Linked DNA regions of Homo sapiens: region 1 is linked to region 2. Evidence: fine-mapped expression QTL. A gene starts in region 2. The other region holds a variant in brackets. All regions are shown on one strand. Distances are from middle to middle.

The links. PIP is the estimated chance that this variant, and not a neighbour inherited with it, causes the effect.
Region 1: its variant is fine-mapped to the expression of TLE1 in whole blood (TOPMed, PIP above 0.99).

The regions. Positions count from the first base shown.
Region 1 is chr9:81,652,944-81,661,279 of GRCh38, reverse strand. It overlaps TLE1 (TLE family member 1, transcriptional corepressor), which reads left to right. Exons shown (of 20, transcript NM_005077.5): 5 at 7,244-7,306. Among named protein-coding and RNA genes, the nearest start is that of TLE1, 32 kb to the left of the region's middle. The variant C/T (reference allele first, on the strand shown) is at 5,029.
Region 2 is chr9:81,685,775-81,694,110 of GRCh38, reverse strand. TLE1 (TLE family member 1, transcriptional corepressor) reads left to right here and starts at 4,564. Exons shown (of 20, transcript NM_005077.5): 1 at 4,564-5,894; 2 at 6,677-6,777; 3 at 8,215-8,278. The coding sequence starts at 5,871. TLE1-DT (TLE1 divergent transcript) reads right to left here and starts at 4,398. Exons shown (of 4, transcript NR_109772.1): 1 at 4,152-4,398. RefSeq lists silencers at 4,017-4,166, 4,317-4,666 and an enhancer at 4,539-5,253.

The DNA of each region.
Region 1 (8,336 bases), 33 kb after region 2:
TTATAGAACCCTAAACTCTTAAGTTCAGCTACTCAGAAGACCATATCTTGAAAAAAAGATATATATATATATAAAAATACATATATATATAAAAATACATATATATAAATATATATGTATTTTTTATTTTTATTTATTTTTATTTATTTTTATTTTTGAGACCGAGTCTCACTCTGCCAGGCTGGAGTGCAGTGGCGCCATCTCAGCTCACTGCAACCTCTGCCTCCCAGGTTCAAGCAATTCTGCCTCAGGCTTCTGAGTAGCTGGAACTACAGGCACGTGCCACCACGCCAGGCTAAATGTGTGTGTGTGTGTGTGTGTGTGTGTGTGTGTGTGTGTGTGTGTTTAGTAGGGATGGGGTTTCACCGTGTTAGCCAGAATGGTCTTGACCTCCTGACCTCGTGATCCTCCCGCCTCGGCCTCCCAAAGTGCTGGGATTACAGGCGTGAGCCACCACGCCCGGCCATATCTTGAATTTAAAAGTCGCAGAATACACTAGAGTTTGATTGATTGCTGATCTCTGAGGTCCTTGGCCGTATTTCTGCTCAGTTAAAACATACATGTAGCTGGGCATGGTGGCTCATGCCTGTAATCCCAGCACTTTGGGAGGCTGAGACCGGCGAATCACGAGGTCAGGAGTTGGAGACCATCCTGGCTAACACAGTGAAACCCCGTCTCTACTAAAAATACAAAAAAAAATTAGCCGGGTGTGGTAGCAGGCACCTGTAGTCCCAGCTACTCAGGAGGCTGAGGCAGGAGAATGGCATGAACCCAGGAGGCATAGCTTGCAGTGAGCCGAGATCGCGCCACTGCTCTCCAGCTTGGGCGACAGAACGAGACTCTGTCTCAAAAAATAATAATAATAAAATAAAAAAATAAAACCATACATGTACATGAATTTTATACTTACCAACGTATGATTTTGTTTTTTTTTTTTTGTGAACAGCCTTTGTCTAGCACTGTTTAGTAATGGTTTATCTGGTTGCACCTTGGCCATTGAATTTAGGGGTGCATGGAGATTAAGTTTTGGTTCATTGAGGCATGACTTTGAAAGTATATTAAATATGTACCCTGGCATCAGTTTTAGTAGGGGAGGTACGGCAAAGAAATGTGTCACAGTATTTAGTAGGAGTCGTGTTCTCGTAATGCTTCCCATCTTGTTGTGTTGAGAAGGCTTTTAGGTAGAAAGCTGTTAAGAAACTGTATGGAAGCTTTCTTTGTATGACATGGTGATTTTTAAGCACATAGGTTTAGTTTACCAAATGACAGTAAGTGCTGTGGAGGATCTTGAAGGGCCTAGAGAAGAGTGCGTTTATTGGCGTTATGGGGGAAAGGCAGCTTCTCAGTGAATTTGAGGCAGGCCTTGAGGGATTGGGAAGATCTCTCATATTTGTACAGCACTTTGGAATAGTATACCTTACATACCAGCTCATCAGCTCACTCGATTTTGATGAAACTCTCAAGTAGATTGGTGGTAATCCTGTTAAGTACGAGACCTGGTTGGGACCCAGTGGTTTAAGTGATTTAACATAGAACCCCTAGCAGTAGTTTGCCAAGATGCAAACCCTAATTTTTGGATGATGAGGGCTAACTGTATTACCATATGCAAATCAGTGAGGAGAGTTGGCATAGGTAAGGAGAATGAAAGACTGTTGTAGACAGGTAATTTGGACTCCTGCTTCCTCCTGCCTCAGTAGGTGGTGGCCATCCATGAAGAAAGTCTTGTTGCTGGAGCCTTCATCCTGCTGCTTACATTTCTGAGTGGAGGGTTTCATGCAGATTTGGTTTGTGGATAGCTCTTGAATGCAGATTTATTGTTGTTGCCTTACACAGTATTAAAAAATCTAGGCACAGGGAAAGTTTATAAGCATTATGACTTAGTGGGTACCAAATAGGTATTCATCATTGGGTAGGAAAATTATTTCTAGGTGGGAAATACAGTTAGCCCTCAGTTTTTCACTGGAGTTGTCTAGCCTTTGCAAGAGGTGGAAGGCAGCAGGGTCAAATACCCAGGTTAACCTGCCAGCACACTCCAATCAAGAATAGAAGCATGGGCAGGAGTCACTACGAGAGGCCAGGCGCGGTGGCTCACGCCTGTAATCCCACCACTTTGGGAGGCTGAGGTGGGCGGATCACGAGGATCAGGAGATCGAGACCATCCTGGCCAACATGGTGAAACCCCATCTCTACTAAAAATAGAAAAATTAGCCAGGTGTGGTGGCGCGTGCCTGTCATCCCAGCTACTCGCGAGGCTGAGGAAGGAGAATTGCTTTAACCAGGGAGTCGGAGGTTGCAGTGAGCTAAGATGGCTCCACTGTACTCCAGCCTGGTGACAGAGCAAGACTCCATCTAAAAAAAAAATAAATAAATAGATAAATAAATACATAAATAAAATAAAGTCACTACGAGACTTGTTAATTTGTGCTAAATTAAGAATCTTACCAGAATACCCTTTTGTTGAAGCAAGAGATAATACTAAGAATTATTGCCAGTTTGTATGCTGCTGCAATCCAGACTATTTGAAGGGAAGATGTTCATGAAGTCCTCTTGGAGAGCTAGTGATGTTTTAGGACTCACAGAGCATTGTTGGGTAAGCTGTGTACCCTCACCTGCCAGGAGGTAGGTTGTGCAGGTGAAGGAGCCAGGGTATTTCAGAGGACGTCAGCGCCTTTTCTGGGGTAAACCAGCTTGTTAATAGAACAGTCCAAGACTTGGATTTAGATTTTCTGGCTCAAAAGTCAAGCTGGCTTGTCAGTATAGTTTAAGATTAGGGTTTAGAGACCTGGCAGACGGAGGGGAAGTCTTGGGTAAGACTCTCCTCTATTGCTCCTATTTGCTTCTTCTCCAGACCATTTATGTAGAATTTCCAGGACATATGGTATGGCTTTCGATGTTTTTCATCAGTTTGAGCTTTGATTTCTAACTTTTCTCCTCCTGTTTCAGGCTTATCCAGTCTAACCCAACTTACATAGTACAGTCGGCCCTTTGTATCTGTGGGTTCTGCATCTGTGAATTCAGCTAACCATGGTTTGAAAATACTTTTTTTTAAAAAACATTGCATCGGCCAGGCACAGTGGCTCATGCTAGGATTATAAATCCTAGCACTTTGGGAGGCTGAGGCAGGTGGATCACTTGAGGTCAGGAGTTTAAAATCAGCCTGTTCTACATGGTGAAACCCCGTCTTTACTAAAAATACAAAAAATTAGCCGGGCATGGTGGCACGTGCCTGTAATCCCAGCTACTTGGGAGGCTGAGGCAGGAGAGTTCCTTAGAACCCGGGAGGTGGAGGTTGCAGTGAGCCAAGACTGTGCCACTGCACTCCAGCCTAGGTGACAGAGCGAGACTCTGTCTTAAAAAAAAAAAAAAAAAAAAAAATTATGTCTGTAGTGAACATGTACAGACTTTTTTCTTGTCATTATTTCCTAAATAATACAACAACCATTTACCTAGGATTTACATTGTATTAGGTATTTTAAGTAATCTGGAGATGATTTAAAGTGTATGGGTAGATGTGCATAGGTTATATGCAAATACACCATTTTATATAAAGGACTTGAGCATCCTTAGATTTTGGTTTCCATGGGGGATTCTGAACCAATCCCTCACAGATACCGAGAGACCACTGTATTCATTGCCTTTGCTTTCATATGTCTTTCTTTTCTTTATTTTATTTTTGATAACTTTAATATTATTAAAGGTTTACAAGTTCATTTCATTCAGACTGGATCTTAACTGTCCTCCGACCATGTTCAAGTCTACTTTGATGCCATTCTAGGTAGTAACACATAGTTGCTATCATAGTTAAAGATGAGGGCATCTTTTCTTAAACCAAAATAAATTCCAGTTAAATAGTTAAGCATAAAAAGTGCAGCCATAGCACACTAGAAGAAAAGTAAGAATGGCTTTTATGATATTGATGTGTTCTAATCTTTACCTAAAGGCCAGGAGCATAGGAAGAAAATGCTTTCATTTGACCACATAAAGACTTAAAGTTCTATACAGCAAAAAAATCATATTAAGCAAGGTTGAAAGACAAGTGGCAAGCTGAGCAAACTCTGATAAAGGGTTAATATTTGTCCCATTCAAGGAAGCACCACCAAAGGACAAAAATGATTAAGCAACAATGGAAGAATGGAGAAAGGAAACATAGAGTGGAGCAATAAATACATGAAAAGATGTTTAACTAGAGGAAGAATTCAAGTAATGCAAATAAAAATGAGGTCATTTTTTAATCCATTAGATGGATGAAGATTAAAGGAAGGTCAACAAAACTCAATATTGACACTGGGTGGGAGAGCAGGAACCCTCCTAAACTCGCAATAATTGGTACAGCTTTTCTGCTGGGCAGTTTGGCAGCATGCATTGCAACTTAAAATATGCATACACTTTGACCCAGCAGTTTCACATCTAGGGATTCCTTTTAGAGATCTGTGTGGAGGCGTATTTGACAGAGTTGTTAATTGTGCAAAATTAAATGAAACATAAATATTCACTGGTGTCAATAGTACTTAGACATCTATATGCTTGTATGGTGGAATGTTTCAAGGTACTTGTTAATCTGTATTGACTGGGATGGTGTCCCTGACACATGTTTGATTAACAAATTATAGAAAGGCAGGGTATGTAACGGAAACCCCTTGGTATTAAAATGTGTCTCTCACTCTGGGCTTCTGTGCACATAAGTGAGAACCTGGAATGATGGTATCCTAAAATCACCAATATGTTACCCATGCTTATCCTTGGATGATGGGCTCAGGGTTATTTTAACTTTCTTTTATATTTCTGTATATGTATCTGTGTGCATGTGTATGAGTTCAAAGTGAGCATATATCATTTTTAAAACTGGAAACCTTCAATGTGAATTTCCGAGAAGAGGAATGTACAGAGTGTTGCAGGAATGTGTGGTAGGTAGGGAGTTGGGAGCAAGGACCTAAGTAGGATACCTACCAAAGGCATCTCTACTCCTTTACATGCACTCAAATAGACAGTGCAGAACCCTGTTGCAAAGGAAAGCCTTGCCCATGCTTT[C/T]GAGGAGAGCCATGACCTTGAGGTAGCTTGAGTGGGTGGCTGTGATCAAATGAACTGGGTGGGGCTGACCCAGTTCTGTTTTTGTACCTGGTACAGCTGCACCCTTTTTGCATATATCTGCCTCGCTGGCTAAAGCAAGGTCATGCACGGGCTTCCTCTCTCTACCAGTCATTTCCCCTTCTAGTACATTTTGTCCAAGGCATGGTCTGTCTGTAACCTTGTCTCATTGGTGGTCAGGGAGAATTGGGTTGGGTCAGACTAAATCCAATCTTATAAAACCAAAGACTTTGCTTAGTTAATTCAGATCATCTTAGAAGATACAAGGCTGCTGTTTTTTATATGCTTGATTGTAAAGTTCCTGGGGTTTTGTTCTTTTCTTTTCTTTTTTTTTTTTTTTTTGAGACAGGGTCTTGCTCTGTCGCCTTGGCTGGAGTATAGTGGCGCGATCTCAGCTCACCGCAGGCTCGACTTTGTTCCTGGGATTTCTACTTTGTCTTTTTCCATTCTCTATTTCTCAAGGTCATGGACTGCGTGCTTTTAAGTTTTTTTCTTGTGATCCTTTTCATTGCTTAATTCAGTAATATAGGTGGCATTTAGTAAGCATTGACAAAATGATGAAATAAGTAAGGTCAAGGATGGGCCTCTTTACAGATGACTTTTTTTTTCTTTTTTAAAAAAGCAGAACTGGTTCTTCCTAGGTAGAGGAAAGCAGAGCTGCTTTGCATTGCTGTAGGGTGTTGGAGGTGCTGCAGGTGGACCCTTCCCTGGGCTAGAAGTAGAGTACCCTCTGTTCCCTCTCTTGCCAGTTTTTGTCCCTTGTAGCAGAGGGACTGCTGTGGATGTGGAGCGGAGCAAAGGTTTTTCCAGCCTTCTTTATTTTTTTTATTTTTTGAGGTGGAGTCTCACTGTCGCACAGGCTGGAGTGCAGTGGCGTGATCTCGGCTCACTGCAGCCTGCACCTCCCTCGTTCAAGCAGTTCTCTGCCGCAGCCTCCCGAGTAGCTGGTATTACAGGCGCCCACCATCACGCCCGGCTAATTTTTGTATTTTGAGTAGAGACGGGGTTTCACCATCTTGGCTAGGCTGGTCTTGAACTCCTGACCTCATAATCCACATGCCTTGGCCTCAGAAAGTGCTGGGATTACAGGCGCGAGCCACCGCACCCGGCCTTTCCTGCCTTCTTTAAAACAGCCCGTGCTATAGACACTAAGGACACCTTTTATTATGTTCAGCTGACCCCTGGGCCCTGTCGGTGAGGTCTTTGAGTTTGTTACTGAACTGTGGCGAAACTTTCCGAATACTCAGGATATCATGACTTGACCATCACCCTCTAGACTGGAATGTTTTTAGTCATGTTTTCTTGGTTTGTTTGAAAGTTTGAGACTTAGGGAAGCTATGAACAATAAAATCCTTTTTCAGTTGTACAAGAGCTGGGACAAGTGGCAAAGAGGTCAGCAGGCCTTTCTTCTACTCTATCACCTTAGGCCTCATCTTTGAAAGGTGGACTGCTTTGACAGTGCTGCAGCTGCAGTGGCTTCTGACACCCGCTTGAATGAACTTGCAATAATGACATAAATGTGTCATGGTGTGCCATCATTGAAAAAGTACACTTGGCTGGGTGCAGTGGCTCACGCCTGTAATCCCAGCACTTTGGGAGGCCGAGGCGGGCGGATCACGAGGTCAGGAGATCGAGACCATCCTGGCTAACACGGTGAAACCCCACCTCTACTAAAAATAGAAAAAAATTAGCCGGGAGTGGTGGCGGGCGCCTGTAGTCCCAGCTACTTGGGAGGCTGAGGCAGGAGAAGGGTGTGAACCCGGGAGGCAGAGCTTGTGGTGAGCCGAGATCGTGCCACTGCACTCCAGCCTGGGCGACAGAGCAAGACTCTGTCTCAAAAATACATATATATATGTGTATATATATATAGTCACCATATTAAATGATCATATAGCCTTAAACCGCCTAGATTTTCCAACTCAATCAAACTACTCATCTCTTATTACAATGAAGTGTGCAGTTGTGGCTTACTTTGCAAGTGGGATTAATATCTACTGTTTATTTCAAGATAAGTATTAGTAACATAACCTGGGGAAACCATTTTATACACATTTCCAGAGCAAGGGAGAGGAGGACTGAAGTGTTAGGGGTATGAAGTTTTACCTTTCTGAACTGATTGTGAAGTATTCTAAACATTTGTGTGGCTTTGTCTTTATAGACTGAAATCGCCAAGAGATTGAATACGATTTGTGCACAAGTCATCCCATTTCTGTCTCAGGAAGTAAGTAAAATTGTTCAGCTGTTAAAGTGCAATTATGTTGCTTCTCTGTTTGCAAATTAGCTAGTTTTAAGATGTTAATTTTATCACAAGGAACAAGTGTGAAGAACATCTGTTACAGCTGAAGTGTGTAAACCCCCTGCTAGTCTATCCAACACATCTGAGGGCACACTGTAGAAATGGTGACAATAGCTCAACCCCCAAATTAATTTTTTTTCCTGTGGAAAACTGCAAAATGACTATCCAATGTACAGCTTTTGCTTTAAGTAGCATAAGCTTGAGAGCTACTGAAAATTCAGGTGTCTTTTATATCTTTTAAATAGAAAGCTGTTCTCATACTGACTTTTAAAAATGGTTCCATCAAGGTAGACTTTACTATGGAGGCAGATAGTTCTTTTGTACTTATGTATCAAGGCAGTTGTCTTAATGCTGTCCTTGAAGGGGTGGATGATAATAGTCCAAAATACATTAACTTAATGAGTCATATGTATGTATAAGCTATTTTGTTTAGTTACAAAGTCATAGAGGTTTAATCTTAACATTCTTTGAGGGAGGAATCTCTTTATATGAGTAATCTATGAAACTGACTCAAGACTATTGTATTTTAGCTTTGCCTTGAAAAGTTTACCTTCCTTCTGGATATAAGCTAGTAAATGCTGTAACGTGTTCTAAGTGTGCACGGGATGAATGCATCTTCACGCAGGGTGGAAAGTTTATTGGACTAGGAGTTGGAATACTGGGTATCCTGGTTGGCACCTGTTGCTCCATGCCGGATGGTCACCATCTCATTATTGTTGTAACAGCCTCTTCCACCATAACCTTTGTCTGTCTGATATGACAATAGATTTGTCTGCCTTTTGAGTATATCAGTAGTTGTTAGACTTTAGTGATCCACGGCTCTATGTTACATTCTCATGCCTCCCAAAGTAAATTTATGGCTTTGTTTTTATTTGTGGGTGGAGTTGGGAGTTGGGAGGTGTGGGGTGAGTTTCCATCTCTGAATTGAGGCTGGAGTCCTTCCTTTGCCTTGTGG
Region 2 (8,336 bases):
CAAGTCCCTCAAGTTCTTCTGGCCACAGTACAAATTGTTCTTGAGCATGGAGGGCTTCCAAAAGCCCTAATTAGCAACTCACAGCAAACATTTCTTTGCATTAGCTAATGATCCGGCTGCACTTGTAAGCAAACAGAACCAACATATCTAATCAATGCTGAAAAACCAACCAAATGCCTATTAAACATCTGGATGTAATTTTCTAGTTAGAACAAAATGAAAACATATGCAGGTTCCTTTGATCTTCGTCTTAACAAAGAAATTGTTGATAAAAAAGCATACTGGTCAGTCAATGTGTCATTTTCATAAAGTCTGCTCATTTCTCTTCAAATGCTCCCAGTTTAATTTAGTTGGTTTCCTGCAATCTCTAATTTTACCATATTGTGTGAAACCGCAAGAGATTCTTTGGAAGTGATTTTATTTGAGGTTTTACTGCTGCATGGATCTGCTACTGATTTTTTTTCCCTTCTCTGCGTTCTTCCTTTCACCTCCACGTCCATCTTGCCCTTTTCTTTGGTAAAGGAGTGGGGGAGAAAAAGATTACCAAGAAATGCTGGGAAAAATTCTTCTGGACCCTACATTCTTAGGTTTAAGAAAACTATCAATTAAAAAAAAAAAAAGGTGGGGCGGGGTGGCTCACGCTTGTAATCCCGGCACTTTGGGAGGCCAAGGCGGTCGGATCACCTGATGTTAGAAGTTCGAGACCAGCCTGGCCAACATGGTGAAACCCTGTCTCCGCTAAAAATACAAAAATTAGCCGGGCGTGGTGGTACACGCCTGTTATCCCAGCTGCTCAGGAGACTGAGGCACATGAATCGCTTGAACCTCGGAGGCGGAGGTTGCAACGAGCTGAGATCGCACCACTGCACTCCAGCTTGGGTGACAGAGCGAGATGCTGACTCAAAAAAAAAAAAAAAGTCAAATGAGGAAATGTATGAGCAATAATTCTCAGCTAAAAGGAAGAGAACACAACAAAAGTGGTCTGTTAAAAACTATAATTATTGGCCAGGTGTGGTGGTGCATGCCTGTAATCCCAGCACTTTGGGAGGCTGAGGAGGGCGGATCACGAGGTCAGGAGTTTGAGACCAGCCTGGCCAACAAGGCGAAACCCCGTCTATACTAAAAATATAAAAATTAGCCGGGTGTGGTGGCACACGCCTGTAGTCCCAGCTACTGGGGAGGCTGAGGCAGGAGAATCTCGAACCCAAGAGGCAGAGGTTGCAGTGAGCTGAGATGGCACCACTGCACTTCAGCCTGGGAGACAGAGTGAGACTCCGTCTCCAAAAAAAATTAAAAAATTACAATTATTATTTCAAATAAAAAAGTAATAGATTTAAAAGATGTCTAGTTGCTACGATCAGCATCTATAACTTTTCCTATTTTGTTTAGTATCTGTACTAGATAACATCTAGCTTTTGTAATTACTTAGGCTATTGCTGAGTTGAAAATTTGATAATCAGCAACAAATGAATGGGAATATACCCACATATGCATCAAAAGAAAATGAACAAGCTGACAATCTTTCTGTTTCTCTGCAGAGCATAAAAAGGGTACTGTGTTTTTCAGAGAAAATTTCCAGTGGGAGCATCATACATTTCACATAAAAACATCATTGACATATGAATGTTAAAGGTAAAGAAGATTATGGTTAACAGGCTTTAAATGGAAGACCAAAATTATAGATTTCATGAGGAGGACTATTTTCTTTTAAACAGGCTGTAGGCAATCTGCACATATATTATTTATTTAAAACATAAGATTAAAGCTACTTGACTGTTTAAACGCCGTCATTTGTAATGCAGTTTGATGAGAGTTTTGTAGTATAATTATTACAGCATGACAATCGTGGAGAAAATATGACCTTGAAAAGGGCAGAGCCTTCTCCCACTCTGACAGACGATGCTCTAAATGGGAAAAAAAGGCTTCAAAAACCAAAACCAACCATTTTTATGCACACAATTAAAGGCCTTCCAATTTTAAATTCATAATGCTCTGTAGATACTACAGATACTTCATTATAAGGAAATCAGAAGGCCTGGTGTTTCAAACTCTATTGGCAAGGAAAGACTAGTTAAAAGAGAATTTCTAGTGTTTACTCATGGCAAACTGGGAAATATGGTGAGCAGACACATTGTCTGTGAGTAGTTATGTTAGAGAACATTTAAAGATGCCTTAGTACTGATTTTGAGGGCAGCGGGGTGGGGAAAGAAGAGAAGTAGCAACACTTTTGCCCCATCTCAAAGCATATTTTAATGGCTCTGTTTAAACTTAATGGGAGTGTGCCAGTTATTCAAGATACAGGCACCACATAAAGCCTGGGTAAGCCGGGGAGGAATATCAGTTGCTCCAGTTGTCACAGCATGTATACAAGCATACTTGTGGCATCCAAGCACTTTCTGTCCGGTCCTGGAGCTGATTATGGGATGAACTGGCCGCAGACTGGTATATGTGGCTCAATCACTAGATAATTTCAAGGAAAACAGGTTGCTAAAGGCCCTGGGATCCTATGATTCCAAAAAGTCCTGTATGTCGAGCAAAACTGTCATCGTCACCAAATTTAACCAAGGAAAGTGAGGCAGTGCTTTCTTCTTTTTTGTTCTCCATGTTAGCAAAATGAATAATACAGCCGCCTTCCCAACTGTACTTAATGAGAACACCACAAAGCTACAATGCCCAACTTGTTTAAGAATTTACTATGGCTTCGTACAGACTGGTTAAAATCGCTTTTTTATTTTTTCATTTATAATTGATATTTGGGAGTGATGCAATTATAGACAAATCAATATCATACATATTTAAAAACAACTCCAACAGTGAAATGTATTATCTAAAATGACTTCTAAAACTATTTCAAGAAAAAGAACTCTGTAAAAGCACATCTTTAAATAAAATGTATGTCTGTTTAAATAAGCTCCTTCCCGTAAGTCTCTTGAAGGTAAAATAATAAAATAATAACGTGGGGGTTATTAATACCAAAAACTTAACTAGTTTCCAACATAAGATAAATACTTGTCCAAGATGTGCCCTTATGGAAGAAGTTACCACCGTTTGGCTAAACCAGCATTATTCATTCACTGCTCATGTGGAAATGTTCCTCAAACAAAAGCATAAATGCGGCAATACTGACGGTTTTCTGCTGTGTATTTAGAGACATACACAAAAACCAAAGACTCTCAGCATTAATTATACAGCATGTCTTGATTATTACAATCTCAAAATCCCTTTTAACTCAAGTTCCACTTCATAAGAACCTTAGCCACGTCATTTACCTAACTCTTCCCATTTAGCTCTTCACACAGCTCAGCTCAGGAGTACCACCCAGACTGTGGGGGTGGGGTGTGCGGGACAGGTTTTTCAGGTCTCAGTGCTGGTTTATTACATTGTCTCTCTTTGTTCCCAGGAATTGGAAACAGACTCGTAGTCTTGTAGCTGAGAAGTTCCTAAAAACCTCAGCCGCTCCCCACCTCTCCCAACACAGCGAAGTCAGGACTTTTAAGACGAAGACCTGGGATTTCGCGCCCCGGGCAAAACGTCTCATCTGCGGACACGCGTGCCTTGTTCTGGCAGCACCCTGGGAATCCTTCCCGCCAAACGGGACAGGACGATCTTTTTGAAAAGTGGCTTGAAATCCTGCAATAAAAATCAAATCCTACCACTTTGGGTGCAAAGGGGGTGGGTGGGGTGGGAGGACATCACAGTCGTCTTTGCTGGTGTACCTACGCCAACCGTGGCGTTGCTCATTTACGCATTTCCAACTAAGTGCACAGTCCACTCCCTCTCGTACATCCGTAAAAAGGCAGCTCAAGGAAAAACAAACCTCAGATAAATTTTTGAATGTGGCCTCACTTTTAGAGTAGCATCAAACAAGGGGTCCAGCACTGAAAAACACATTTGCTCGAATTACCAAAAGCCCCCCTCCGCCTCCAATAAGAAACTCCGCAGCTAGTCTTTGAGTTACTTTCACTTAGATCTGAGGATTTTCATTAAAGGGAAAAGTGAGCAAGTGGCAGGATTTTTGCTAACTCGAGCCCTCAGCTTCCCCGGCTGCACGCTCGCCAGTCCCTCCCGCTAGCGCGCGCCCGCGCGCTCTCTAGCCAGCCCCACGTTACTTTGATTGACAGCCCAGCCCCGCCGCTCTCCTTCCCACCGACCTTCCCATCATCAGTGCCAATCTCCGCGAATCGCCGCTTCCCATTGGCTGGTTTTGGCGTCCCGCGGCTCCTCCAGGAACAGTTCCTCACCAAGCCCGGGAGGACGCGGCTGGCGGAGGAGGGGCCGGGATGGGAAGGGAGACCGAGGAGACGGCGGAGATGGAAGCGAGAGGAGGGGGGGAGGGAGAACGCCCCGTCCGGCGCTGCGCTGCCATACGCTCCGGGGAGGAGCGCGTCAGCGCCCCACGTTGGTTGCAGCGCACGCGATTGGCTGATGCGGGCCTTCTGCCCCCCCCCCACCCCCCAACCTCCCGGGCTCACGTCCCCCGCCGGCTCCGCGCTCGCGCCCCCCGCCCGAACGGGGCTGGGCGGGGCCGGCGCTGGTTAGCTCCGGAGTGTGAAACCGCGTGTTAATGTAAGCGGCGCGAGAGGCGCGGGCGGCGGCGGCGGTGGGAGCGGCGGCTGCAGAAGCAGCAGCAGCAGAAACAGCGGCGGGTACTCTGTGCCCCGCGTCCCGGAGGCAGCCGACTGCGCCACCCCACCCTCGCACGGCCGGGCGGGACCCGCGCCACCAGCCCGGACCTCCGTCGTCCCGCGGCGACCAAAACCCCCGCTGGCCCCACCGCTGTGACTACTCTGGACTCGCCCGCAGAGTTTGCCCGCCGGGGAGGGTGGCCGATTGGCGGAGCGCACTCCTGCTGTTTTCCCCACCATCTCGTGGATGTCGTCCCTCGGGTGGTGAGAGAACTTTGCAGTGGGCTGGAGCGCCCTTTGCGGAGAAGCACACGAAGGTGAAGGAAGGAAAGAAAGAAGACCGAGGAAGAAGGAGCTCGGAAGAAGGGTCCGGAGCGGCCGGTCCGGCCGTGCAGGGCGAGTGCGCCCGAGGCGCGGCGCCCTGATGCTCCCCGGGCTCGAGGAGCATTGGGCACTTGCGGGACTGCTCTCGGTGGAGTAGCCCCGTCGGGCCCGGAGGGTTTGTGCAACCGCGGAGAACACCGAGTGCTGGTCGCACGGGGCGTGCCGAGCCGCCTCCCGGCGCGCCCTCCGCACTTTCCCCGCCTCGTCATCCGTCGCTCCCCGGCCAGGAGCCTCCGCTGCGTCTTCAACCTCGCTCCCCTTTGCGTCCCGGGAGCCTGCGAGCACCCGGCCGAAGGCGCAGCCGAATCTTGCGGGAGTCGCCCCGAAAGCGTCGGGTTTGTGTGGGGTTAGCGGGGGCCGCCGCGCCACCTGCACCTCGCCCGCCGCCGCCTCGGGGAAAGCCCGAAGAGGAGGCGGACCAGGAGAAGAGCAAAGAAAAGCAGTCCGTCTGGATTTGTTTGCCCAGGACTGGCGCCGCGCACGCGGATCGCCGAGGGGAGTGCGGTCGGAGTCACCGCGCCCCCGCCTCCCCGCCCGGGCAGCTGAGGCCGGGGGTTGGAGCGCTGCCCCCGCGCACAGTCCCCGAGCGCCCGACGTCTCCGCGCAGGTTCTTGAAGCAGCTGGGCCTGGGGCGCCCACTAATGTGGCCCTGAGGGCCGGAGCCCGCACCGACGGGAGCGGGAGCCGGAGCAGCTGCGGGCGCCGAGTGGCCGGTGCGCCCGGCGGAGCGCGCGTGCGTGGCCAGCGCGCTCCCCGCTTCTGCTTGGCTTTCCGGCTTAATTTTCCTCGGCGGGATTAAAGTTGGAAATTGACCGGAGAATTGAGTTGCCGGGGAACAGAGCCCCGGCCGCCGCCAGAGCGATGTTCCCGCAGAGCCGGCACCCGGTGAGGCGCGGCTGGGTGGTGGTGGGGGGCCAGGATCGTTGGGGAGGCGCTTCTCCCGGGCGGTAGGGAGACTGGTGGCTTCTGAGGCCCGGCGGACCTTCTCGCCCTCAGCGGTGTAAGGCTGGGGAGGTCTGGGGCCCTCTCTTCCTGGGGTGGGGAGTGGGCCGAAACTCTTAATTTTCTCCCTCCCTTTGGGCTCCTTCCTACTTGACGTCTATACCGAGCGGACAGGGGCGCTGGGGAAGGCTGGGGTTTCTCTCCTGCAGCCATATCCCCTCTACCTTCCCCGAGTGGGGGCAGGGCGCCCCCCCCTTTGTTTCTCCTCTCGCCTATTTACATGTCAATGCGGCCCCGGTTCCGGTGCGTCTGGAGGTGGCCCCGGCGACTCTGGGAATGGGGAGCGTAAAGGAGTTGTTTTTCTCCTCTGGTCCCCGGGGTCATTATCGCCGCCGTGGGGGAAGGGGCGGCGACACCGACAATCTGGCCTGGTCTTCCCTGGCCGCCGGGGAGCCCCCTTCCCTTTGGCCTGGTGACCCGGGCGCACTTAGCGCAATCCGCCCTGGAGACTGGGAAGAGCTTCCGAGCCTCTTTAGAAGCCGGGGCCCGGGGAGGGTCCGCTTTCCCCCTCCCCATAGTGAAGGGCAAACTCGAGTTTGGGGCCTCGTTTTCAGCCACTTCTAACTTTATGTTTATGTCCCACCCGTTCTTGCCTTCTCTGACTTACTGCTTTATTCATCCGCCCGCATTCCCGTCCCTCGGTCCCCCTCGCTGGTCGCCCCCAGACGCCGCACCAGGCTGCAGGCCAGCCCTTCAAGTTCACTATCCCGGAGTCCCTGGACCGGATTAAAGAGGAATTCCAGTTCCTGCAGGCGCAGTATCACAGGTGCGTGTCCGGCCGCGCCATGCGAGTGGTCGCGGGCGTCCCGGTGCCCCTTGCACCCAGCCGGGTGGCGGCGGCGCCTGTACTTAGTTCTTGCGTCCAGGCGGTGGCGTGTGGAGTCTCAGTTAAGACCTGTCATTCAAGTTACCCCCTTTCCTGGTTCTTCCCGGGCCGCCTCTTCTCTTGTCTCCTCCTCCTCCCATTGTTTCCCTTTTGCCGGTTTGCACTGTTCCAGGGAGTCCTTTTTCATGTCTTTAGGAGTTGCATGAGAATCGTCAATATTTGCACTTCATGTATTTATTTTTCAGCAGACTGAGCTGAAACATTGGTTCAATCGATGTCTCAGTCCTGGAGTGTGGGTTCAGGGAAGCAAAGCCATGTTGAAATCGCTGTTTGCCATACTAGAAAATTGGGTTTTCTGAGGCAAAGTCCATTAAGGAAGGCTAGATGCTTATAACATTGCCCATCATTGGTGATGGTGAGGGAGGTGGGTATAATAGTATAAAGAAGAAAGCTCACCTGCTTTGGCGTCATTTCGGATTGGTTTGGGTAGGATGAGAGAGTGGAGTCACATTTATATCCATCTCAGCCTTAGTTTCTTCAAGTAATGAGACTTACCTTCAAAGGACTTATAAATTTTTGTAAAATACTTTGCCAATAGTGAACTTCCCAGAAAGGTTAGTTTCTTTCCCTTGTTCCTATGAAGTTTTACCTGATTCTAACTCAGAAATAACTGTATTGACATTTTTTGCTTTTGTCATGCTTGAGAAAAAGCACACAGATGAGGCGAAGTGGCTTGGGTGTGAATTTTCTTACTTTGTCAGGGGCTTTCTCATTATTGACCTTTTGTCTACTTGTAGATAATATCTCTGCAGCTTGAGGCATACTTGCACACACCGTGTTTACCCAGCAGGGAGAACTTCAACCCACTTTATTGCAGTAGCTACTTGACATATTTTGGCAGGGATTTAAAAACCAAAGGTTTTGAAAGGGACCAGCAATTGTAGGAGTAACTTAACAGATAGGATTTTCAAACCTAGAGACCGTTTGAGTTGGCAAAGATGGCACAGCCTATGCCTAAGAGTGAAGATTGTGCAAGGGCCGGATTTTGGTGGAGTACAGAGAAACAAACTGATGCAGGAAGGTAGGGAGCAGATGACCATGAGGAGGAATCAGTTAGAGGTTCTGACAGATTTTTTTCATTCTTGTCATCTAACCAGATAGGCACCAAGAAGAATGGTAGCTGAATGGACACCTTGTATTGTTCACATTATTCCTTTTCCCTATTAAATGCAAGGACAAAGCTTTTGGGTGTTTACCTAGATAGTTTATGGCTTTTCCAAATTGGTCTGTGTTTTTACTTGAAGTGCAAATATGTGAGGCAGATGTTAAAACAAGTGACATAATGTTTACATTAAGTTGCCTGTTTTGTTTTCCTAGCCTTAAATTGGAATGTGAGAAACTGGCAAGTGAAAAGACAGAAATGCAGAGGCACTATGTGATGGTAGGTATCAAAGATTGGACTTTTTCCTTTTTCATATGATATTAGCAAACGTGTTAGC